7 linked regions of the Homo sapiens genome follow. The protein of the gene in region 1 purifies or fractionates together with the protein of each later gene. This does not show direct contact. Each region holds a gene or a part of one and is shown in the gene's direction. Other genes may lie near its edges.

The links.
Region 2: the proteins of DGCR2 (region 1) and TPCN1 purify together in Homo sapiens (affinity purification with mass spectrometry; one large-scale study listed by BioGRID and IntAct). This does not show direct contact.
Region 3: the proteins of DGCR2 (region 1) and RGPD2 purify together in Homo sapiens (affinity purification with mass spectrometry; one large-scale study listed by BioGRID and IntAct). This does not show direct contact.
Region 4: the proteins of DGCR2 (region 1) and HECW2 purify together in Homo sapiens (affinity purification with mass spectrometry; one large-scale study listed by BioGRID and IntAct). This does not show direct contact.
Region 5: the proteins of DGCR2 (region 1) and DNAJC18 purify together in Homo sapiens (co-immunoprecipitation; 2 studies listed by BioGRID and IntAct, with this or other methods). This does not show direct contact.
Region 6: the proteins of DGCR2 (region 1) and NCAPD3 purify together in Homo sapiens (co-immunoprecipitation; 2 studies listed by BioGRID and IntAct, with this or other methods). This does not show direct contact.
Region 7: the proteins of DGCR2 (region 1) and KIAA1586 purify together in Homo sapiens (affinity purification with mass spectrometry; one large-scale study listed by BioGRID and IntAct). This does not show direct contact.

Annotation. Positions count from the first base shown.
Region 1 is NC_000022.11:19,035,786-19,039,099, reverse strand, and holds the end of DGCR2 (integral membrane protein DGCR2/IDD isoform 1 precursor), read left to right. Parts: coding exon 1-235; 3' UTR 236-2,814; downstream 2,815-3,314. UniProt on the Homo sapiens protein: Putative adhesion receptor, that could be involved in cell-cell or cell-matrix interactions required for normal cell differentiation and migration.
Region 2 is NC_000012.12:113,276,964-113,280,463, forward strand, and holds part of TPCN1 (two pore channel protein 1), read left to right. Parts: coding exon 1-72; intron 73-276; coding exon 277-401; intron 402-1,225; coding exon 1,226-1,274; intron 1,275-1,808; coding exon 1,809-1,872; intron 1,873-3,187; coding exon 3,188-3,232; intron 3,233-3,500. UniProt on the Homo sapiens protein: Intracellular channel initially characterized as a non-selective Ca(2+)-permeable channel activated by NAADP (nicotinic acid adenine dinucleotide phosphate), it is also a voltage-gated highly-selective Na(+) channel activated directly by PI(3,5)P2 (phosphatidylinositol 3,5-bisphosphate) that senses pH changes and confers electrical excitability to organelles.
Region 3 is NC_000002.12:87,757,629-87,759,796, reverse strand, and holds part of RGPD2 (RANBP2-like and GRIP domain-containing protein 2), read left to right. Parts: intron 1-320; exon of another isoform or gene 321-2,168.
Region 4 is NC_000002.12:196,196,064-196,198,554, reverse strand, and holds part of HECW2 (E3 ubiquitin-protein ligase HECW2), read left to right. Parts: 3' UTR 1-2,491. UniProt on the Homo sapiens protein: E3 ubiquitin-protein ligase that mediates ubiquitination of TP73. Acts to stabilize TP73 and enhance activation of transcription by TP73. Involved in the regulation of mitotic metaphase/anaphase transition.
Region 5 is NC_000005.10:139,429,526-139,433,025, reverse strand, and holds part of DNAJC18 (dnaJ homolog subfamily C member 18), read left to right. Parts: intron 1-3,500.
Region 6 is NC_000011.10:134,203,468-134,206,967, reverse strand, and holds part of NCAPD3 (condensin-2 complex subunit D3), read left to right. Parts: intron 1-235; coding exon 236-369; intron 370-1,996; coding exon 1,997-2,069; intron 2,070-2,796; coding exon 2,797-2,922; intron 2,923-3,061; coding exon 3,062-3,314; intron 3,315-3,500.
Region 7 is NC_000006.12:57,045,327-57,049,492, forward strand, and holds the start of KIAA1586 (E3 SUMO-protein ligase KIAA1586), read left to right. Parts: upstream 1-1,366; 5' UTR 1,367-1,429; coding exon 1,430-1,450; exon of another isoform or gene 1,451-1,595; intron 1,596-1,986; coding exon 1,987-2,070; intron 2,071-4,166.

The DNA of each region.
Region 1 (3,314 bases):
GGAGGTCAGCCTGCCAGCCCCTGGGGATGGTGGGAGTGAAGGTGCATTACTCCGGCGCCTGGAGCAGCCTCTGCCCACTGCGGGGGCCTCTCTGGCAGACCTGGAAGACTCTGCCGACAGCAGCAGCGCCCTGCTCGTGCCCCCTGACCCTGCCCAGAGCGGGAGCACCCCAGCTGCAGAGGCACTGCCAGGGGGTGGCCGCCACAGCCGCAGCTCCCTCAATACTGTGGTGTAGACGGCCTGGCCTGTACCCCAACGGTCTGGGAGCACCTGTCTGTTGTAGAAAACACCGGTCCCTGGGGAGACTTGAAAGGCCCCTGTCCCAGCCTGGACGCCACGCACTGCCGCACGTCACTGGCGGGCTCGCGTGTGTACATAGAGACCACAGCCCGCCTTCTGCCAAAAGAAGTGATGGCCTGCACCGAGCTTCCTTGAGGGCTTCAGAAACATGCATAGCTTTGGATCACTGTCTTCTCCTTTATAAATGGCAGAAGAGTGACAAAATTCATTCAGACCGCACATGTTAGAGGCAGGGAATGAAGAAGGTACTGTGGGCCATGGCCACACCTGATGCGTTTTTGGTGGGCTTACTTGGTGCAGTGTGCTGTCCAGAGAGACCTGCTGACCCAGTCTGGGACAGGCACAGTGGGAGCTGCCACAGTGCCCCTTGCTGGCCGCCCTCAGGAGGGGGCCTCTGGACCGTCAGTGTGGCGTAGGCAGTGGGTCTGCTTCAGGGAGGCAGCCTCTTGACTTTGTCACAACGGTTGCACTGAAGATGGCCCCCACAAGCCCAGTTGTGAATATCAAGGTGACCCTGCCCCTGGCTGGGAGCTCCCCTGGGGCTCTGGAACCTGAAGCCCTGAGAAGGAGAGCTTGGAAGGAGGTTGAGCTCTTCACTGTGTCTTTCCATCTGGGCTCTGCAGCCCAGCTCTGTGGCAGGAGGCCTGACCCCACCCCATCAGTCCCTCTCCCAGCATTGCTGTGCATGGCTCCCTCAGGAAGAAGCTCTGGAGTGGGGCCGAGGCCCCAGATGCTCTGCTGGGGTCTGGGGACTGAGCTGCCTCCTGTCTCTCCACTCTGGAGCCCTGGGCTCTTGCCTCCTGTTGAATTGCCCCTGGGCCTGCCCCCGGCCCCATTTGTGCCATAAAGGGTTGCTTCATTGCAGGAGGGGTGGCTGAAACCACCATCCTGGGCTGCATCTATCTCCTTAAAGTCCACTCCTTACATCACCGCCACTACTGCAGCTCAGTGCCCAGCGGCCGCATGCACACCTCCCGGCCCCTCCTCAGCAGCGCAGGGGCTGGGGGCCCTTCCTGGCACCCTTTTGCCTGACGGACCCTGTTGCCTGCTCCTGGGCAGTGGTTTTGTTGCCTGACACAGGGCCTTTAACATTTCTGAGGTTTGGAGATTAAGCGGGTTCTGTGCGATTTTTAGCACATCCATATCTTTTCTACGTTGAATGTCTGGATCTTTCCTTTGTATGTTTGTGTCTCTGTGTGTGTATGTGGCCAAGCGTCTGCAGGTGAGGGTGGCACATGGAACTTCACGGGTCACTGGGGGCCCACTCTTCCAGGGTCATCGATGCATCCTGGGCTGTGCTGAGGCAGTGCTGTCTCGCTCAGTCTTTCCAGACCAGCGGGGCAGCACCTGGGAGGCCTGTCTGAAGCATGCAGTTCTGTGGTGCTGCTCGGGGATGGACTCCATGCACAGTCCACTTCTTGACACATTCTCACACTGTGGCTGGAGACCCATTTTTTCCATCCCATGTGGAATGAGAATCTTGAGTTGCCCACAGACAGACTTGACCTTTGTGCCAGAACTGTCCAGAGCTGTGAGTTTTGTTACTGAATTGCCTGTCCCTGAGCTTGGCCTGCTGGAGCATGATGCTGGAGGCTGTGTGCGGGCAGGCTTGTGCTCCCCTTGGAGAAGGGCTGCTACTTAACAAGGAAGTCCTGGCCACAGGAGTCCCCTACTGGCTGCAGAGGACGAAGCAGGAAGCATGCCGTGGATCCCACATGCACTGGGGCAGGGCAGCCAGGTTCCAGAGCAGCAGGCATGTGCATTATGGGTGCCAGGTGGCCAGTGAGGGCCCGAGGACCACGCAGCAGAGTCCCCCACGGGCCTGAGCCTGAGAGCTCAGAGGATTCCTGCCAGGCCTCAGAACTGTGTGTGCGGGACAGGGTGGCTGGCACGAGATGTGTGGGACTGGGACGCTTCCTTTGGGGACCAGAGGAACATTAGGGGCCGGTCAGACACGTAGGGGGCAGTGAGGAAACGGGGTAAAGTGGACCATGCAGGCTGCAGAGGGTGGGCCTTGGGCTGGCCGGGGTTGCTGGGTGGCCCCTTCCCCATGGGCCTCCACAAGCACTCAGGCCACTGGCACGTTGGGCCAGGCAGAAGGTCCACATGGCAGGGCTGCCTGGAACACCGCTGCCACTGTGGCTCCAGGAGGCCCTTGGGAGCATGAGGAGAGCTGGACTCGCTCATCTGTTCTTGCACCACCATCCAGAATGCCCCCTTTGCAAGGCCTGCTGCAGTCCCCAGTCTGACCAGCAAGTCCCGGGGTCACCCTTGCTGAACCTTGTGCTCCAGGGGTCCTCCTCCTCTAGGACCAGCTTGCCACGGTTTCTCAGAGCCCAGGTGCCCTCTGACCTGCCATGCGGAGGTGGGATTTGATACTGTACATTGTCTTGATGCCTGTTTTTTTATGTTTTCATTAAGGGTTTTTAGTTTTTGGTTGGGTTGACACTAACTTTTCTTAAGATGCTGTGAGAATCATTTCATCCAAATGCCAAATAAACTTGTGTTCCGGAAGAGGCATGGTTAGTCCTTGGTGTGGCCCCCACGGCTGCCACAGGCTAAGGTGGAAGAGGCTGGGTACCCACCTTTCAGCAGAATGCACCTAGGGTTTGCAGCCCTTGCAGGCGTCCATCAAACCCCCTGAGGACCAGGCAGAGCTGAGCCTGGAGCCCCTAGGTGGAGTGTGCAGGGAGAGCAGCAGCCCTGAGCTGCCTACAGCTATCCTGCAGCACCCAGCCCTGCTTGGGGCATCGGCTGCTGCCTTGGCAGGTGTTGCTGACGTGCACAGGATCCACATAAAGGCAAGGCTGCTTGACACCATCTGGGAGCTAGCATGGGACGGGGTGGTAGGGCAGGGCTTGGAACCTGGCCGTCAGCGCCATTTCCTCTAAGCTCCCCTCATCATCCGGGTGGCTGGAAACAGCCCCTCCCTCCAGTCCAAGCCACCTAATGTTACAAAGTAGCCTAGGTCCTCTGGGGCCTCTTCACTCATGTCCAGCAGTGCCATCTCTAGG
Region 2 (3,500 bases), on another chromosome or scaffold:
AAGTTCAAGTCTTTGCTACTGCACAAGCGAACCGCTATCCAGCATGCCTACCGCCTGCTCATCAGCCAGAGGGTAGGAACTATGGGCCAGGGAGGGGCTTGGTCCCTGTCCTCCCTCCCTTGCCCAGAGCAGCCCCTAAGCATGGCCAGGCCAGCCACTTTAGAAACCAGGAACCCTGCCCTTGGAAGAATGAACAGAGCTGGAGTGGATCTGGAGTGGGTGCCCCAAGGGAAGGGGAGTAGCCTGGGTTCCACACTGCTCTTCCCTCTCCCCCAGAGGCCTGCCGGCATCTCCTACAGGCAGTTTGAAGGCCTCATGCGCTTCTACAAGCCCCGGATGAGTGCCAGGGAGCGCTATCTTACCTTCAAGGCCCTGAATCAGAACAACACACCCCTGCTCAGGTAAGAGCAGATGCCTGGTAGGGGCAGCATGGCCAGACAAGGTGTTCACGTCTAGAGTGAACGGGGGCATGTGAAGGCCCTTGAGGTGGGCAGGCCTATAGGCTTGTCAGAGACTTCCTCCACAGATGTTTATCCATGTAGACTTACACACTGGATTCATCAGGATGCCTTTTGCAAGTGACAAAAGTCCAACACAAATCCAATTCAAGCTGACTTGAGAAAAAAGGAGCTCATGAAGTGGACTGGCCCAGCTGCTGGCCCTCGAACCCCCAGTGGGGTGGGATAGTCCCATGTGAGCCAGGTGGACAGACAGGGGTGAATATACTTCCCCAATCCCCTGCACACACCTGGCTCGGCCGCAGAGAACTGACCCGAGATCTCCAGGGGTAGGATTGGTCTTCCAGGCTGTTGATGACCAAGCCCTGTCCACAGCAGCCTGCTGTGGAGCTGAGAACAAGCCCTGTTTGAGCTGAACTTGCAGTCCCAGGTGTTGCATTAAGGCCCCTGCTAAAAAGTGAAGTTTCCGTCCTCCTAAGAATCCTAGTGCTCCAGCAGCTGCCTCTCCAGGGCACTGACACTGTCCGTAGTTAGTGCCATCGGTGGAGACTTAAGTGGATTACATATTTGTAGTACCTCAAGGTCAGAGGAGATCCAAACGCTTGCAGGTAAAGGATCCCCCAGCACTGCTGTGCTGGGACTCACATGGTGTCCCCTCTCTTCCTCCCTCACCCCATAAAGGTGTCCATAGGCAGGCAAGTAAGAGAAGCAAAGCACAGTGGAACTATGTTCTGATATTTTGTCCCTTTTTATTTTGCTTTTGGTAGCCTAAAGGACTTTTACGATATCTACGAAGTTGCTGCTTTGAAGTGGAAGGTGAGTTCTTCTCTGAGACCATAGAAGGAGTAGACAGAGAGGTCCCCACGTGGGGCAGTGAGGAGCAGGGGCACCCCGAGATCCAGCTCTCTCCCTGCTAGAGCAGCTCAGCCCCCAGCTTGGCATGGTACACTTCAGGGATCACAGGTGGCCCCAGCCCCCAAATCTGCCCTTACATTTGTGATACAGTGTCATCGTTAACAGCACCGAATCTTACTTAGACCCCATTGGTTATTGTGTGACATCAGGCGGGTTACTGAGCCTTTCTGAGGCTTGTCTTACCTGGGAAGTGGCGTAAGGATAATCCCTACTGACAAACCTCATTTCAGGACTATACTAAAATAAGGCCTCTGCATGGCACATTGTAAACGCTCGGTACACACTGGCTGGCTGTGTTGTCATGTAGATCCCTGAAGGTTAACATTGTTCCCCAGTTTAGCAGGGTGAACAGGAAAGGAAGCCAGCATCCTGGCTCCAGGCAGGGCCCTGGTCCCTGGCCCTGACACCCTCCCTCTTGGTCCTGTTGTCTACCAGGCCAAGAAAAACAGAGAGCACTGGTTTGATGAGCTTCCCAGGACGGCGCTCCTCATCTTCAAAGGTAAGTGGGCTTGAGTATGGCAGGTGTTGGCAGCTGGGGGCCGATGGAGGTTTTCAGAGACCACAGATAAGCGTCTGAGGAGAGGTTCAGAGGGGTGTGTGTGTGTGTGTGTTTGTCTGAATGCCTGTGTGAAGAGACAGTGTGATTACCCCAGCAGGGACGTAAGGGTGGTAGGAAGCAGATTGGGAGAGAAATGGGTAACTTAACCCAACCAAAATGGGTAACTTAACCCAACCAAGACATTTGGGGTATTTTTCTTTTTTCATACAAAAGCAAAGATGTTCATTGAAGAAACTTGAAAGTGAGATAATTAGAAGTAAATGGAAATTTACCACCCAGATAACCACTGTTAGTTCTCTGATGTGTTTCCCTCTGTGCCATTTTTCTATGCATTTTTAAAACAGTAGGGTGACATTATATATTCCATTCTGTAATCTGCCTTTTCATCCAATAACACATATGTGTGTGTGTGTATATATATATGTGTGTGTGTGTGTGTGTGTATATATATGTGTGTGTGTGTGTATATATATATATATATATATATATATATATATTTTTTTTTTTTTTTTTTTTTTTTTTGAGGCGGCGTCTCGCTCTGTTGCCCAGGCTGGAGTGCCGTGGTGCGATCTCGCTCACTGCAACCTCCGCCTCCCAGATTCAAGCGATTCTCCTGCCTCAGCCTCCCGAGTAGCTGGGACTACAGGCATGTGCCACCATGCCCGGCTAATTTTGTGTGTGTGTGTTTTTAGTAGAGATGGAGTTTCACCATGCTGGCCAGGCTGATCTTGAACTCCTGACCTCGTGATCCACCCACCTCGGCCTCCCAAAGGCCTGGGATTACAGGCGTGAGCCACTGCGCCCGACCCCGATAATATATTTTTGCCCTCCTCTTATGGCAGGATGTATACTTTGCATGACCCCTTGAATAATGCTTGTGTAGTGTAAAGTTTGAAAATTTGAAATTGGGTGCTCGTATTATTTACCTGACAGTTGCCCCTTAATTTCATGCCAGTTTCAGCAGTGATCAGGAGAGCTTTGTCCTGCTCTATCTTGGTTCCAGGTTGCTCAGGCTCCCCCCAGAGCAGCTGTAGTCAGTGCAGTCTTGTCTGGGGGTCTGAGCAGAAGCATGGGTACCACTCTTTGAGCAGGACCCTCCTTTCTTCACCTCTGGGGTAAAGACCATGCTTACCTGCATGCACGAAGAGTGTGGTAGGTGGTTGCACCTGCCCAGAAAGAGATAATAATAATTAAGGATACAGTAGGGGGAACAAGTGCGTAAATTTACATTTTAACTTGTCTTTTCTTCAAATAGGTATTAATATCCTTGTGAAGTCCAAGGCCTTCCAGTATTTCATGTGTAAGTGTGAAATATCTCCACTCTAGGCCACTTTCCCCCTGAGTCCTTTGCTGTTCTAGAAGCGGGAGAGGCAAGAGATTGGTCCTAGAGTCCTGTGTTTGACTTTTTATTGTGGGGAATTCCCAGCATGTATAAAAGTGAAGAGAACATTACCACACGCATCCCCGTGCCCATCACCCATCTGTATCTTCACTCCGGCTCATCATCCTCTCTAGACCTAGATTTTTTGGAAGCAAATTCCAGAACCACAGAGTTGACTGGTCGATAT
Region 3 (2,168 bases), on another chromosome or scaffold:
ACAAATAAAGGATCCCGATGATTCAAACAGGTGGAAGTGATGGGAGAACTGAGTTGTCACACAGTACCATATCCACACTGTCACACAAATCTCACCTTTATTTATTCCCTTTTGCACTAACGTAGCCAGAAATGTGAAACGATGACAGTTTTTTCAGTAGGTATTTTTTTTTTTTAGTTTTTATCATTGACCTTTGAGGTGCACTATTAAATTGCTCAGTCCATTAAAATAACGGATTGCTGATTTAAAAACTGGTTCCTTGCTTAGCTTCAGCAAAACAGCAAAGTCTACCACATTAAATGTATATTGTTTATTTGATTTTTATTGACTTTGTTGTCTTATTTTAACTACTTAATTGCAAATCTGTCTTGGGGTTAACACTGTGTAAGAGTTTTAAGCATAAGAAGTCTGTACTTAGAGTTTAGATGTAGTTTTATATTTGTACATGTTGATGTAACATTTTAATAATAATAATTCAGGTCTGCTGGGCATGGTGGCTCATGCCTGTAATCCCAGCACTTTGGGAGGCTGAGGCGGGCGGCTCACCTGAGGTCGAGAGTTCAAGACCAGCCTGACCAACATGGAGAAACCCTGTCTCTACTAAAAATGTAAAATTAGCCAGGCATGGTGGCACATGCATGTAATTCCAGCTACTTGGGAGGCTGAGGTAGGAGAATCGCTTGAACCCGGAGGCGGAGGTTGTGGTGAGCTGAGATCGCACCATTGCACTCTAGCCTGGGCAATGAGAGCAAAATTCTGTCTCAGAAAAAAAAAAAAAAATCAGGTTAATTCTGGGATCTGAGCAAAGTTTTGCTCCTTTCCGAGAGGTGAACACGTTACGCAATTATTAATAATATCCCTGTGGGAAGGGGCTTTACAACAAATTATTTTACAGGTGAAGGGCAGAAATGAAAACATTTTCTAGAGCCACTCCTGCCCTTCACACTCAGGAATGTCGCAGTAGTCATATCTCTGTTCTGGATCAGTAGTATAGCACCAGGGCCCCTGCGCATCGTTGTCTGGATTCCTCCAGTCCCTCTGAGGGGTGTGTAGCAGGTGAGAATCTGGGGAGGATGGAAGAGAAGCACTTAGACTATATTCTAAAAATCAGCTTGCTATTAGCAAGGCAGAAGGAGATGCTCTCGATTCCCATCTGAGATTGTCATCCAAATGCATTTCAGCTGGGTGCTGCAGCATTTGTGTGGTCAGATTTTCAATTTCTCTATTGATAGGCTGCTTCTGGCACAGTAGCTAATATTACCATTGCTACTGTGACAGCCAAGTCTTAGACAGAGAGCCAAAATATTTTTATTGCACAGTCAGGAGAAATATAAAGGCCTCAAAAGCCTGCCATGGTCTTAATTCATTCCAAACACCTGCTTTTGTCAGTTGCCCTTTTCTCTGTAAAAATTTTCGTAGTTAACACCATTTTGTCCATGTGAACTATGTGCCAGGAATTCCACTAACATCTTTCCACACATTCTCTCTTTTAGTCCTAATAAAAAAAACCATTTGAGGAAGGTGTTATTATCCCTGTTTTACAGATGAGAAGACTGAGTGGCAACGTAAAACAAAACAAAACAAAACTTGCCTAAGCATAAATAGCTATGAAGAAGCAGATCAAGAATTCAAAGTTGATCTGTCTGATTCCAAAGTCCTGGTTTTCTCTGAAATGCAGCTTGAATTATTGGGGATGGAGGAGGGATTTAAACTTATTTTCAGTTCTAGAGATGAGTTGCTGTATAGAGACAACCATTTAGATGACAATCACAAGACTTACAGTCTAGAAAGGCAGGTTTTATTTCTGGTTCTTCTGTGAACCTATTTGGGTAACCCCCACCCCCCAAGACCTCAGTTCCCTCATGAAGATGAGCCTAGACTACCTCATAAAAATGGCCCAGAGTGTCTCCATGGCCCCCGATAGTCTCTGACTTCGCCATTTGGTTGAATCAGTTTTCATTAACTCACGGGGAATATTTGATCTGCTCATCTCATAGGGATATAGCAAAGGCAATTTGTTGAGTGTTGGGGGAATGGATAAAGGTGAGTAACACTAAGTTCCTATTTGATAAGTGTCATTACTGAGAACTTAAGGCCACCTAACACCAAACTGGGAAAAGCACAAAAAAATGCACTAAAATAAATAATAGGCAAGTTGTGACATTTGA
Region 4 (2,491 bases), on another chromosome or scaffold:
AGTTTGATGTTTGTTTGACGATGGAGCTACAAGAGTCTAAATCTGCCTTTGAAAAGCTCAGCTCACAGTGTAGTAGAGTAGACTCCAAGGTTCAAAAAAGTGTTTTTAATAAAATTTGGTAAGTTCTACAATCAAGGAATGAAGAGAGAAGAGAACAGCTTTTTCCATCTGGGAGATTCAATAATGGCTTCATATATAGATGATAGTGTGGCTAAAAAAAATTACATCAATGCTGTTTCTATTGGGAAGCAATGGCAAGTAATAGTATGTCAATACTGGTCAAGTGTTGAAGCCAGGATGCACTTACACAACGAGAGTGTAAAGTGTGTAGGGAGCTGATCTGTGAAGGAGCAACTCAAAGATTTTGAAATTATCAGTGAAATGCCAAAACAGGGAAAGTTTCCCTGTTTCCCTTCATCTATTCTACAATGCACCATTGGTTTTCAGTGTGAAAAATCCCAATCCCTGAGCCCAAACCACTTCTGGGGTCAAAACATTTTTCTTGTGCACAAAATGAATGGATCTTGGTCAAAGAAGTATGGTCACAATTTTCTAGCATATATTGCGTTTATAATTTAGCAGAAATTCTGCAATAAATAAAGGAAAATCTGTTTTACCTGTGCAACAATCAGAAATGGTAAAAATGCATTCAAGTGTTTGAAAGAAATGGTAGAATATGCTTGCATAGTGCTTTATAGTTTCAAAGTGCTGTCAGGTACATCGTCCGTTTAGCTCCTCACGCACTTTGTAGGGTACAAGCATCATGTTCCATCTGGGTTGTGGCTGATTTTCATGGATGGCTTGTGGCATCAGTTTCATTACTTCATAGTCACAATTCTGTGTTTCATCTTGAGAAATGTGGAGACTAATGTTTGTACCAGTATATTCCACATTCAGTGAGGTTTCCAAGATGCTTCCTCCAAACTCTCACTTTCTTAAACAGATACATTTAAAATATGACACCTTCTGAAAAGTCCATAAAGAAATTAGTATATTCATGGAAAAAATTTCCCCGTAGACTTATTTGCATTTCATGACTTGACATGAGAAATTTAAAAAACAGAAGGCAAAATGTGATTGCTTTTGATGGATTTATACAGAATAGTCATTTAATTTTCTCAAGTATTATTTGGAAACAAGATAATGGAAAACATTAATCAGAAGCCTTATTTTATTTTTAAATTTTTAATAGGGATGGATCTAGTAAGCCCTAATAGCTGAGTTCCAGTGATAAAATTCACAAATTTTATTTATGATTGGACCACTTCTAACAAGGCAAATATCTTATAATGAAGATAGGAGTCTGTTCAATTTAACCTTATTCAGGAAACTCCGTATTTATGTGAAATGATGCAATGCCATTATTAAGAGGTATCTGTAACCCTGCATAATAAAAACATGCATAAGAAGAATGTGGTCTAATCTCCAAACTGAGTCTCAGTTTCAGGGCCTTTTGCTTTCTTTGTTTGTTTGTTTGAGACAGTCTGGCTCTGTCATCCAGGCTGGAGTGCAGTGGCACATGAGCTCACTGCAACCTCCACCTCCCAGGCTCAAGCGATCCTCCCACCTCAGCCTCCTGAGTAACTGGGACTACAGGCGCATACCACCACACCTGGCTAATTTTTGTATTTTTGTAGAGACAAGGCCCAGGCACGTCTCAAACTCTTGAGCTCAAGCGATCCGCCCGCCTTGGCCTCCCAAAGTGCTAGGAGTAATTATAGGTGTGAGCCACCATGCTGGCAGTTGTTTTTGTTTATTTGTGATAAGGTCTGGCTGTCACCCATGCTGGAGTGCAGTGGCATGATCTTGGCTCACTGCAACCTCTGCCTTCCAGGCTCAAGCCAGCCTCCCACCTCAGCCTCCGAGTAGCTAGGACTACAGGCATGCACCACCATGCCCAGCTAATTTTTTTATATTTTTTGTAGACACAGGGTTTTGCCACGTTGCCCAGGCTGGTCTTGAACTCCTGAGCTCAAGCAGTCCTCCCACCTTGGCCTCCCGAAGTGCTGGGATTACAGACGTGAGCCTCTGGGCCTTGCTCTGTTTTGTCTGCTTTCTGATTTAGTAGGTGAGGGACAGCACTCTGGACCTTAGCCATTTTACTTCCATCTTACTGCCGTGAGTTTGATGAGAATGTCACTTTTAGACTCTAATTTTCAAAAACTTAGTTTCTTTCCCATTCATTTGTGTTTTCCAAATTAATTTGTTTGTCTAGTATGGATGCAAAGGAATGCTGAAGACATTAAAGCTTTCTGAATTGTGGCTTAAGGCCAGCTACTGCCCACTGAAAGGATGATAAAAATAAAAAAGGAGGAAAGAGGAGCCCAGCAGTTGTGCCACCCCGCAAGAATATAATGCTAATTATTGACCAACTGTCAAGATTCAGAGTGGTAACTGCATTCCGAGGAGCTGTCAGGAAGGATGACCGTGTGTGTGCTGTCCATATCATAGCCATCTGGGTCAGAAGGAGCGAAAGGATGGTTAGGACAGG
Region 5 (3,500 bases), on another chromosome or scaffold:
TTACAGGTGTGAACCCTGCGGCCAGCCCTACCTCATCAACTTTTTAGTGCAGACAAAAGTGCCCTATTCTGGAAAAGAAATGTCACAAAGGACATTGTACTAGTAAGGATGAGAAGTGAGCATCAGGATATAAGGCAGGAAGGGATAGGCTAACTCTGCTATTTTGTGCAAATGCAGTTCAGTTTATGATGGGGGCTGCCATTATATATAAAGTTGCTAACCCCTGAGCCTTGAATGGAAAAGATGAACACCAGCTGCCAGCCTTTTGGTTGTACAGCAAGAAGGCCTGGGCACTGAGAGCCCTTTTTCTGGACTGGCTCCATTGATATTTTCTTCGTGAAGTCAGGAAGTACTTTGCCATTAAGGGACTGCCTTTAAAAAGTTCTTTTGGATTAACTCAGGGTTATGGTGCATGCCTGTAGTCTCAGCTACTTGGGAGGCTGAGGCAGGAGAATTACTTGAGCCCAGGAGTTGGAGGCTGCAGTGAGCTATGATCGTGCCACTGCACTCCAGCCTGGGTGACAGGGACCCTACCCTGTCTCTAAAAAAAAATAAAGTTCTGTGGCCAGGCGCGGTGGCTCACGCCTGTAATCCCAGCACTTTGGGAGGCCAAGGCAGGTGGATCACAAGGTCAGGAGTTCAAGACCATCCTGGCCAACATGGTGAAACCCCGTCTCTACTAAAAATACAAAAATTAGCTGGGTGTGGTGGCAGGTGCCTATAATCCCAGCTACTCGGGAGTCTGAGGCAGGAGAATTGCTTGAACCTGGGAGGAGGAGGTTGCAGTGAGTCGAAAACATGCCATCGCACTCCAGCCTAGATGACAAGAGTGAAACTCTATCTCAAAAAAAAAAAAAGAATGTGAAAAGTCAACCCACAGAATGGGAGAAAACATTTAAAAACTGTATATCTGATAAGGGACTTTATCTGGAACGTACAAAGTTCTCTTAAAACTCAACAATAAGAAGACAAATAACCCAATTGGAAAAATGGGCAAAGGGTCTGAATAGGCATTCCTCCTATATATTCCTCCATATATGAATAAAGAAGATATATATATGGTTAGTAAGCATATGTAAACTTGTTCAACATCTTTAGTCATTAGGGAAATGCAAATCAAAACCACAATGAGATATACCCACTGGAATGTCTATAGTCAAAAAGGTGGATGATAAGTGTTTATAAAGAAGCAGATAAATTGGAACCTTTGTACATTGCTGGTAGGAATGCAGCCAGTTTGGAAAACAATATGGCAATTCCTCTTAAGGTTCAGAAGAAAATTAAGATTATTGACCTAGCAATCTACTCCTAGTATATTCCAAGAGAAATATAAATATACTTCCACAAAAAAACTTGTACATGAATGTCCATAGCAATATTATTCATAACGACCCCAAAGGGGAAACAACCCAATGTCCATTAACTGATAATGGACAAGCAACATGGTGTATATCCATACAATGAAATACTATTTTGTAACAAAAAGGGATGAACAGATTCATGCTACAACATGGATGAACCTTGAAAAAATTACAGTAAGTGAAAGAAGCCAGATACAAAAAGCTACATGTTATATAACTCCTTTTATGTAAAATATTCAGAATAAGCAAATCTATAGAGGGGAAAGTAGATTAGTGGGTCCCAGGGGCTGGGGGAGAAGTGGGAGTGACTACTAAGGAGTATAGAGTTTCTTTTTGGGGTGATAAAAATGTCCTGAAATGAGATAGTGGTGATAGATGCACACCTCTAAAAATGTATTTAAAAACTAATGAATTGTACATTTTAAAAGGGTGAACTTTATGGTACGTGGATTATTTCTCAATAAAGCATTATTAAACAAATAGTAAATTTAGGAGAGGGAGTCCTGAGTGTCTGCCATGGAAGCAGAGATTGGAAACTGGGCTGGGGATTCAAAGACTCCCCATGGGCAGCTCATGTGGAAGGGATCTGCTGACAGCCCAGACCCTGCATTAGAGTCCAACCTGTGTTACTGACTTACGATGAATTTCCCAACGAAGCTCCGAATCTCTGCCTGCCTTACTGAATTATATAGTAGCAAAAGACTGAAGACCTTCTCAATACAAATTAGTAGGTAATGTATATATTATACATTGATACAATGCAATAATATTTAGATTTTAAAAAGAATGAGGTAGGCCAGGCGTGGTGGCTCATGCCTGTAATCCCAGCACTTTAGGAGGCCAAGGCAGGTGGATCACTTGAGGTCAAGAGTTCGAGACCAGCCTGGCCAATACAGTGAAACCCTGTCTCTACTAAAAATACAAAAAACTAGCTGGGTGTGGTGATGCAAGCCTGTAGTCACAGCTACTCGGGAGGCTGAGGCAGGAGAATCACTTGAACCCAGAAGGCAGAGGTTGCAGTGAGCCAGGATCGCGCCACTGCACTCCAGCCTGGGCTCTGTCTCAAAAAAAAAAAAAAGAGGTAGATATATAGTACTAGGTAATATTTATTTAGTATTAAATGCTCTCAAGCACTTTGATGAAGACTTTATTTAATCACAATATCAACTCTGTGAAATATAATTATTAGCCCATTTCAGAAGATAACACCAAGCTATAGAGGTTAAGTACACAGCAAAATCAAAGCTAAACCAAGGCATTTTGACTCCAGAGCTCATCTCTAATCCAGCAGTTCTCAAAGGGTGGTTGGGGAACCCCAAGACCCTTTTAGGGGATAGGTCTGCAAGTTTAAAACTGTAGTCATAATGATATAAACATGTTACTTGTCTTTTTCACTAATTTTCTCATGATTATACAGTGGAGTTTTTGAGAGGCTACATGACATGTAATTACATCATCACTGTTTAAAAATTTTTTGTTTTCATTTCTGGTATAGTAGATGTGGATTGATAGAAGTCATATAAATGAAAGCTCTTTTGAGGTCTTCAGTAATTTTTTTTCGCTTCCTGTACCATGCATATCAGTAATTTTTAAGAGTATAAAACGTTGCTGAGATCAAAAGTTCAGAACTGCCACTCTAATCTAAACTACTGTCTAGTCTAAACTATTATTCTATACTTCTCATCTCTATATGTTAAGGATTGATCTCCAAGATAAATTGTTTTTTGTTTGTTTTTTAGAGACAGGATCATGCTCTGTTGCCCAGGCTAGAGTGTAGTGGAACAATCATAACTCACTGCAGCCTCAAACTCCTGGGCTTAAGTGATCCACCTGCCTTGGCCTCCTGAGTAGCTGGAATTCCAGATGCAAGGCACCATGCCTGGCTAACTTTTTAAAATTTTTCATAGAGATAGGGTCTTACCATCCTGCCCAGGCTGGCCTCAAGCTCTTCACCTCAAGCAGTCCTCCTGCCTCAGCCTCCCAAAGCACTGGTATTACAAGAGTGAGCCACCACGCCCAGCCCAAAATAATTTTTTTTTAAAGCAAGATGTAGAAAAGTGATTATAATATGTTTCCATTTAGGCAAGAAAAAAAATGGAGAGGACTATACCTGTACTCTCTGTACATAGGATCCACAGA
Region 6 (3,500 bases), on another chromosome or scaffold:
ATTGTTTTTATCAGACATATCATCTGTCAGCCATTCTTTCACACTGTTTACATTGTGCATTTATTGTATCCCTGCTCATTGTTTAAGAAATATATCCCTAGTGTTCAGCCAGCAATTATGCCAGCCTGACCTACCTTCAGATGGCTTGAAATGGTTTACTACAGTCTGCATCACTATGTCTGAGACCCTTGTGTTCTCCATCCGATCTTAAATTGAATTTTCTTTTCTCTTCTAGGTCATCAGTTGTGTTTTCCATCAAATGCTCAGTGTAATATTAATGTTAGAAGTTGGTGAAGGATCCCATCGTGCCCCCCTTGCTGTTACCTCCCAAGTCATCAACTGTAGAAACCAGGCGGTCCAGTTTATCAGGTGAAGCACACAAATCGTGAATTTTCACCCTGTCAGTCTCCCTCAGTACTCTGGGCCCTGCACTAAGATTTCTGATACATGTAGACTTAAAATTTCTGGCCTGATGGTGGTTTTGGGGGTGAAAACCAAGCACTTCGTAGCTAATGTGCTTTATGTGTCTGGGTCTCTGTTGGTAGGCTCCCAGCTGGGGCACTGTTAAAGAGATAGGAATCTGCAGAACACGGGCCAGCGCCAGCCTCCAGCTTGTTTGCGCTCAATATGTGGGTCAGCCTCAGAGAGAGGATGGTGGCCTCTCCTCCTTTCCCTTGTCTGCTTCATTGCAGCCAGTTCACCTCTTTCCCTTTTCTGTTGCTCTCTACTTTGCAGCTCTTTGCTTTTGTTCTTTGCCACTTTCTTCTTGTTTCTTTGCACTTTTCTATTCCTTTCCCTCTGTAGAAATGACTTGAAGGAAAGGATTGAGTTGCTTTTTACCTCCGTAGCAATAAGTGTTAGACTACTTTTCCTCTCATGGGTCACTCAGCTTCACTTAAAAACTCTCATGCCTTAGTTTCACTGGCAAGGACATGTTTGCTGCGTTGTTGGCTTTTCCTTCCCTCCTTCACTGATTTTTGGCGTGCAGTGTGGAGGTGGTGCCGAGACATGGTGTGCATGTGCAAGTGTGTGCATGCCTTGGGTGTGCACAGTGTGCAGGGTAGTTGGAGACATGGGGTGTGTATGACGTCATCTTGTGACTGAGCAAATGTCTCTCACTAAGGACTTTTTAAAACATTAAGTAACTAAAATGTTTTAAGTGAAAACACGATCGTTTCGTTTTTTCCATGAGAGTTTCTCATATGCCAGTCGCAATAGTCTTCATGTAATGTTACAGATAAACATCACTAAAAATGGATCAAGTCTGGGCATTGTAGAAATTTCTTCTTGAGGCGGGGCGCGGTGGCACATGCCTGTAATCCCAGCACTTTGGGAGGCCGAGGCGGGCGGATCACCTGAGGTCAGGAGTTGAAGACGAGCCTGGCCAACATGGTGAAACCCTGTCTCTACTAAAAAATACAGAAACTAGGCGTGGTGGCGGGCACCTGTAATCCCAGCTACTCGGGAGGCTGAGGCAGGAGAAACTCTTGAACCCGGTGGGGGAAGTTGCAGTGAGCCGAGATCACACCATTGCGCTCCAGCCTGAGCGACAAGAGCAAAACTCCATCTACAAAAAAAAAAAAAAGAAATTTCTTATTGGGTTAAAGTTTGGAGAAGTAATGTTACTAATGCATTTCACTGAGCTACCATGAGGTGGTACTGTGTCTTAGTCAATTTTTATATTTATCCCCAAAGGATATATTTTACATCTTCATATGAAATTTAGTAAGTAGTCAAAAGAATTGTATGAAGATTACATTTTTGTTCTTACCTGATGACTTAGCTACTCTGCAGCAGCTCTCAAAACTGCACGGGAACTACTTCACAGTTTTCTACGATGACATTTTATGTCTTCACTCTTCATTCTACTGAAACCACTCTTATAGCGTGAGGTAGAGTGTTTTAATAACTAGGATTTCTAAATATAGGAGTAGTGGTTTTTGGGGACAGTCGCTGACTGTATTGTGAACAGTAGATGTGTTTTTCTTTTACAAAGCGCCCTTGTGGATGAATTAAAGGAGAGTATATTCCCAGTCGTCCGTATCTTACTGCAGCACATCTGTGCCAAGGTACTGTTTGCCTTAGTAATATTAATAACATGGAAGTATATCGTGTGTGAAGATAAATGTGTGTGTGTGTGTGTGAGTGTGGGTATTTGTTCTTGGGAATGAGTGTGCATTGTTACTTAAAGTGGTTTTATTTAATGTTCACTAGATGGTCCCCTAGACAAAAGTGTTCTATAAAAAACAAAAAAACAAAAAAACTTTGTTTTGGAAAAATGTTGAACATACACACAGAAACAGGGAAAATAGGCTGGTGAACCACCACATACCCATCACCGAGTTCCACAGTTTTGTGTCACTTAAACCCCTACCCCACATCCCCCAACATGTGTATACTGGATTGTGTTTTGAAGCAAATTCCATCATATCCTTTCACGGTAATTCCTTAATATTATCAAACATCCAGTGTTCAAATTTCCATGATGATCTCTACATTTTTATAACCATTTAGACAAATGATTCTTAATTTGAACCTTATGAAACCTGGGGATCTAAAAACTCTCTGAAATTGTATACTAAATTTGTATGTGCATTTTTCTGGAGAGATGGTTTATAGATTTCCTTTAGATTAGTTTTGAAGTGTTCTAAAACCTAAAATTTATTAGTCATTTACGTAACATTTAAAGGTCATTGAACTAGTTGTACTCACTGACTTTCAACTTATATTACAGAATATGTTTCAGCCATCCTGCGGGTGGATATTGGTTGGTCAACTTCTCTTTTTGCTTTTCAGGTGGTAGATAAATCAGAGTATCGTACTTTTGCAGCCCAGTCCCTAGTCCAGCTGCTCAGTAAACTTCCTTGTGGGGAATACGCTATGTTCATTGCCTGGCTTTACAAATACTCCCGAAGTTCCAAGGTAGGAGATAGCTCTGCATAAAACCTTGGGTCCTTTTTAAACTCTTTTTAAAAGGGTCTCTTTTTCTAGGTCTGAATGAGGAGGGTTCTTTGGTTCTTACTCCTATCTGATGGCAATTCTTATGATCTTGCTTTACCAGATCCCACACCGGGTTTTTACTCTTGATGTTGTCTTAGCTCTGTTAGAACTGCCTGAAAGAGAGGTGGATAACACCCTCTCCTTGGAGCATCAGAAGTTCTTAAAGCATAAGTTCCTGGTGCAGGAAATTATGTTTGATCGTTGCTTAGACAAGGCGCCTACTGTCCGCAGCAAGGCACTGTCCAGCTTTGCACACTGTCTGGAGTTGACTGTTACCAGTGCGTCGGAGAGTATCCTGGAGCTCCTGATTAACAGTGAGTATGGCGACTATTGGGACAGTAAACCGGTCTTGTGCTCATTGAGAAATAGACTGCAAGGGAATCGTTCTTTTCTGTGGCAAAAGTAATAGGTATGGCATGATCTATTTTTACTCTCAAAACCATTTTTAGTATATTTTCTTGCCAAATAACTTTTTAAATAGGCAAGCCTGATACATTTGC
Region 7 (4,166 bases), on another chromosome or scaffold:
AGAGCTATAGTAACCAAAACAGCATGGTACTGGTATAAAAACAGACACACAGACAAATGGAACAGAATACAGTACCCAGAAATAAATCCACACACTTAGGGCATGGCTACACGGAGGAAGGGGTTTCTGAGCACAATACTCTGTGTGTGTTAACTTTGTAGTTTTGAAGTTAACAAGACCCTGGGCTCGCTATGCAGTCCGTATGTGATGTTGAACCCTTTACACACAGCACTAGACGGTTTTGAACCTATCAAAACACTGCTTCACTTAAATTTCACCAACTCCTTAAAATCCTAGTAAGTCTATGTTTTCCTTTGTTCCTATGTTCTCCTTTTCTCCCACTTTGTGGGTTGTCTGTTTACTCTGCTGATTATTTTTTTTGCTGTGCAGAAGCTTTTTAGTTTAATTAAGTTCAGTCTATTTATCTTTGTTTCTGTTGCATTTGCTTTTGGGTTCTTCATCGCGAAGTCTTTGCCTAAGCCAATGTCTAGAAGGTATTTTTCCGGTGTTATCTTGAGCAATTTTTATGACTTCGGGTCTTAGATTTAAGTCTTTGATGCATCTTGAGTTGATTTTTGTATAAGGTGAGAGATGAGGATCCAGTTTAATTCTTCTACATGTGGGTCACCAATTATCCCAGCACCATTTGTTGAAAAGGGTGTCCTTTCCCCACTTTATGTTTTTGTTTGCTTTGCTGAAGATCAGTTGGCTAATCAGATACCTCATAGCTCCTTTGTTGTATAATTTTGTGCATTGTAGATCAGGGTCAAAATGATAAAGGTGATTTTCTGGGACTACAGACTTGTCAATAACAGGTGGTCCTAGGCTGATAGAGGTAAACAAATAAAAGCTTTAAAAGAATATTCTCTGTTAAAATTTGCTTTCATAAATTTCATGTTTAAAATCATTTGTGAATAAATGTTAAAATAAAAAGGTGAGCCACGATTTTGGTAAGGCAATTTCTGAGCAAATCACACACAATTTTTTTTCATTCCCATTGATCTATTACATAGACGAATATTTGGTTGTGAAAAAGTGAGAGAAAGAACTCGGCTATTTTATTATAGTAGAGCAACACCGAAGGGAGACGACTTCGCTGTAGCTCAGAGTCTTTTTCCATTCTTCACCCACGCGCGGGGCAGTCGCGCGGCGCGGTCGCGCGGCGGGTAGGAACTACCATCCCAGCATCCTCTGCGGCGCGGGGAAGGAAGCCCGGGAATGAGAGAAAGAGGCTCCGGGGAGATAGCGGACCAGTGAGGGCTGCCCCTCTTTTGAAGCGGTTTTCGTCTCTTTCCGCCAGTGGCCTCCCAGCTCACGCAGGGGCGGGTCCCGGTAGCGCGAGGCGGTGCAGGGCGGGAAGGGGAGTGGTGGCGGCTGCGGCAGTAGGGACAGCAGGAGCAGTGGTGCTGTCAGCGCGGCCGTCGGAGACATGGGAGACCCGGGGTCGGAAGTGAGTAGTCGAGTGAGGGTCCTGGCGTTCTCAGAGGCGAACCGCGAAGGGTTTGTGTTTTCTGCGGTCTGAGGCCTGGTGCTCCGTCGCAGCCTCGGGGCGATACCTCTTCAGTGTCTTGGGCCGAGCCCAGCTCTGGGGCCTGGTGCGTGTCTGAGCGAGGAACCCGCAGCAACAATGGCCGCCCGGCCCCCCGCACGGGCCCTGGCGTTCGTTGTGGCCGCGGCTGGGCCAGTGGGAGCGACGTTTTAAGGCAGGATTGCCCTTCGGTGTTGAGCTTGCGTTCCTCCTGGAGTAGATAAGGGGAATTGTGAGAGGCTGGTAACTAACGCGTTTTCAGCGTTGGGTCCCTGCAGCTCCGCACACTCTGTGGCAAGAGCCAGAGCTCGAGTTCCGTTCCTAGTCGGGTTTCCGTGAAATTGTGCTCAGTTCGTTTTCCTCAAGAGCTCTCTGTCTTTAATTGTTCCTTTCGGAAACGCTCTCTTCCTACACGAATGTGGCTGAACAGATAAGCATGTTTTGGCTTGTTTTTATAGATAATAGAATCTGTCCCTCCAGCTGGCCCTGAGGCATCTGAGTCAACAACGGATGAAAATGAAGACGACATTCAGTTTGTCAGTGTAAGTAGCAATGATGATTGGGGTTTTCCCAGAGTAAAAGACTATGGTGGGCCATTATGTAATGTTACCTCACCTGGTCATTTAATGTTCATGAGTGTCTAATACATACTAGACACTGGAGCATGGCGCAGGATTGGGAAATTTACCAAAAGAGCTATCTGAGCCACCCCCGTAGCCATCACAAAGAGCACGTCCTAAAGAACGTGCTGTACACTTAATCTCGCCCCCTGCCTTTCATTTAAACTTAAGATAAAAACGCTGGTGTCTAAAACGCTGTTTTGAAATGGAGCAAGAGTAACTTCTAAAGGCGACACGGAGGAAGGAGCTGCTAATGATGAGCAAGGACGTAGAAAACAGGAAGGGTTGTGAGAGCCCAGAATCTTAGCGTTATGGTGCTTCTAACATGAAGGCAAATAGCTTGAAGATTTCTCTAACCTCTGAGATCATCATGTTACGGCATAGTACAGTTGATGCTCATAATGAAGAATCCTACATCACTGGGAACATGCTCTATTTTTCTGAGTTTGTTCCCTTTGAGACAGTAGTTTTCAAGCCTTAGTAAGTATAAACAGGCAGATTCCTGGGCCCCACTGCAGACCTACCGAATCAGAATTTCCAGGCGGGGGCCTAGGAATCTTCATTTTCAGACAAGTGCAGGGACATAAGGATTTCTGAGCACACTTTGGACAGAATGGGTTTCTAAAGCAGAAGGGAGTGTTTTATGATATATTTTGGGGTGATTTTCATCCATAATTGTTGGAGTTTTAGAAAGGCTTTGCGTAAAGTGGTATCTCAGCTCGCCAGGCAGAAAACAGTTCTGTCCCCAACTCGTCTTTTGGAATGCCGTAGTTAGTTGCAGTTTGGTATTCAGGCTGTAGAATTTTTCTTTAATGGAGTGTCTGTCTAATGTTTCTGTGTTTTTTAGTTTTTGTAGGTTTAGGGCGACTTTGTAAGTCACTTGTTTTTTAAATTAAAATTTCCTCCCTAAACATTGTTTTGTTAACATCGTTGTTTGTTTTTCGTGTTTTGTGTATAAGTTCTTTACCCTGTCACTTTCTGGACATATTTCCCAATTAATAGTGTGTGTATATTTTGTTCCTGACATTTGGAACCTTTCTAAATATTGATGATACCAAGGGAGATTGTATGCTGACTCTGCCTTCACTGTTGTTATGGAGTAAGCAACGTAACTTGAAATCAAAGAGCAATGGTTTCTGTTTTTGTAACGAGAAACATTTGGGAAGAGGAGTTCATGGGTCTTTAGGAAAAATAATTTTGGTTTCCTCTTAACTGGTATAAAAACAGGAATGATTGGGACAGATGATCTTGATGAGTTTTTTGTGCATCTGTATGTAGAAGTGACACACGTCTGATTGATGATCCATGTGCCATTGAGAAAGTATGTAGAAGTGACATACGTCTGATTCATGATCCATGTGCCGTTGAGAAACACAGATGGGATGTACAAAATTAAGTTTGGAAAAGTAAATAGGTATAGATTTGTGTAATATCCTGAGGAATAAATCATTATATTTTAAATTGTGAGTTAATATATAGGCTGTGTTTAGCTGAGGTTTAAAACTCTTACTTTAAATTTTATTTTAAATATAAAGATCCTTCTACATCTTTTCATACAATATTTTGTATATCCAGCGTGATAGAACCCTTTATATTTAACCCTGTTCAAAATAGAAGATCAAAGGTTTGACAGCTCTTATATGGAGAAGTGAATTACATGCTGTCAGTGTAATTGCAGTACCAGAAAGAATGTAGTAAAACATCCCTGTTGCATTTCAGTGGTGCCACATAAAAGACAATGATAACTTAATTCCACTTTGAAATACACTCAGAGACAACTTTCCTTTGTAACCCCATCCTATACTGGGCTCTACCAGGATATGCTTATTTCTCTGTGTTTTTTATAGTACCATCCAGTAAAGATGCAATGCTGCTGGGTATAGTTCTCTGCTTGTGGGTTCTTCAGATTAAAAGAAAAAAAAGTTTGTTACTTCTTGATATATTCTGGTTTGGATTCCTTAGTCTTTTCATATAAATGTTGATTATCTAGCCTTCATTCTGCGTTGTGGCACAGAATC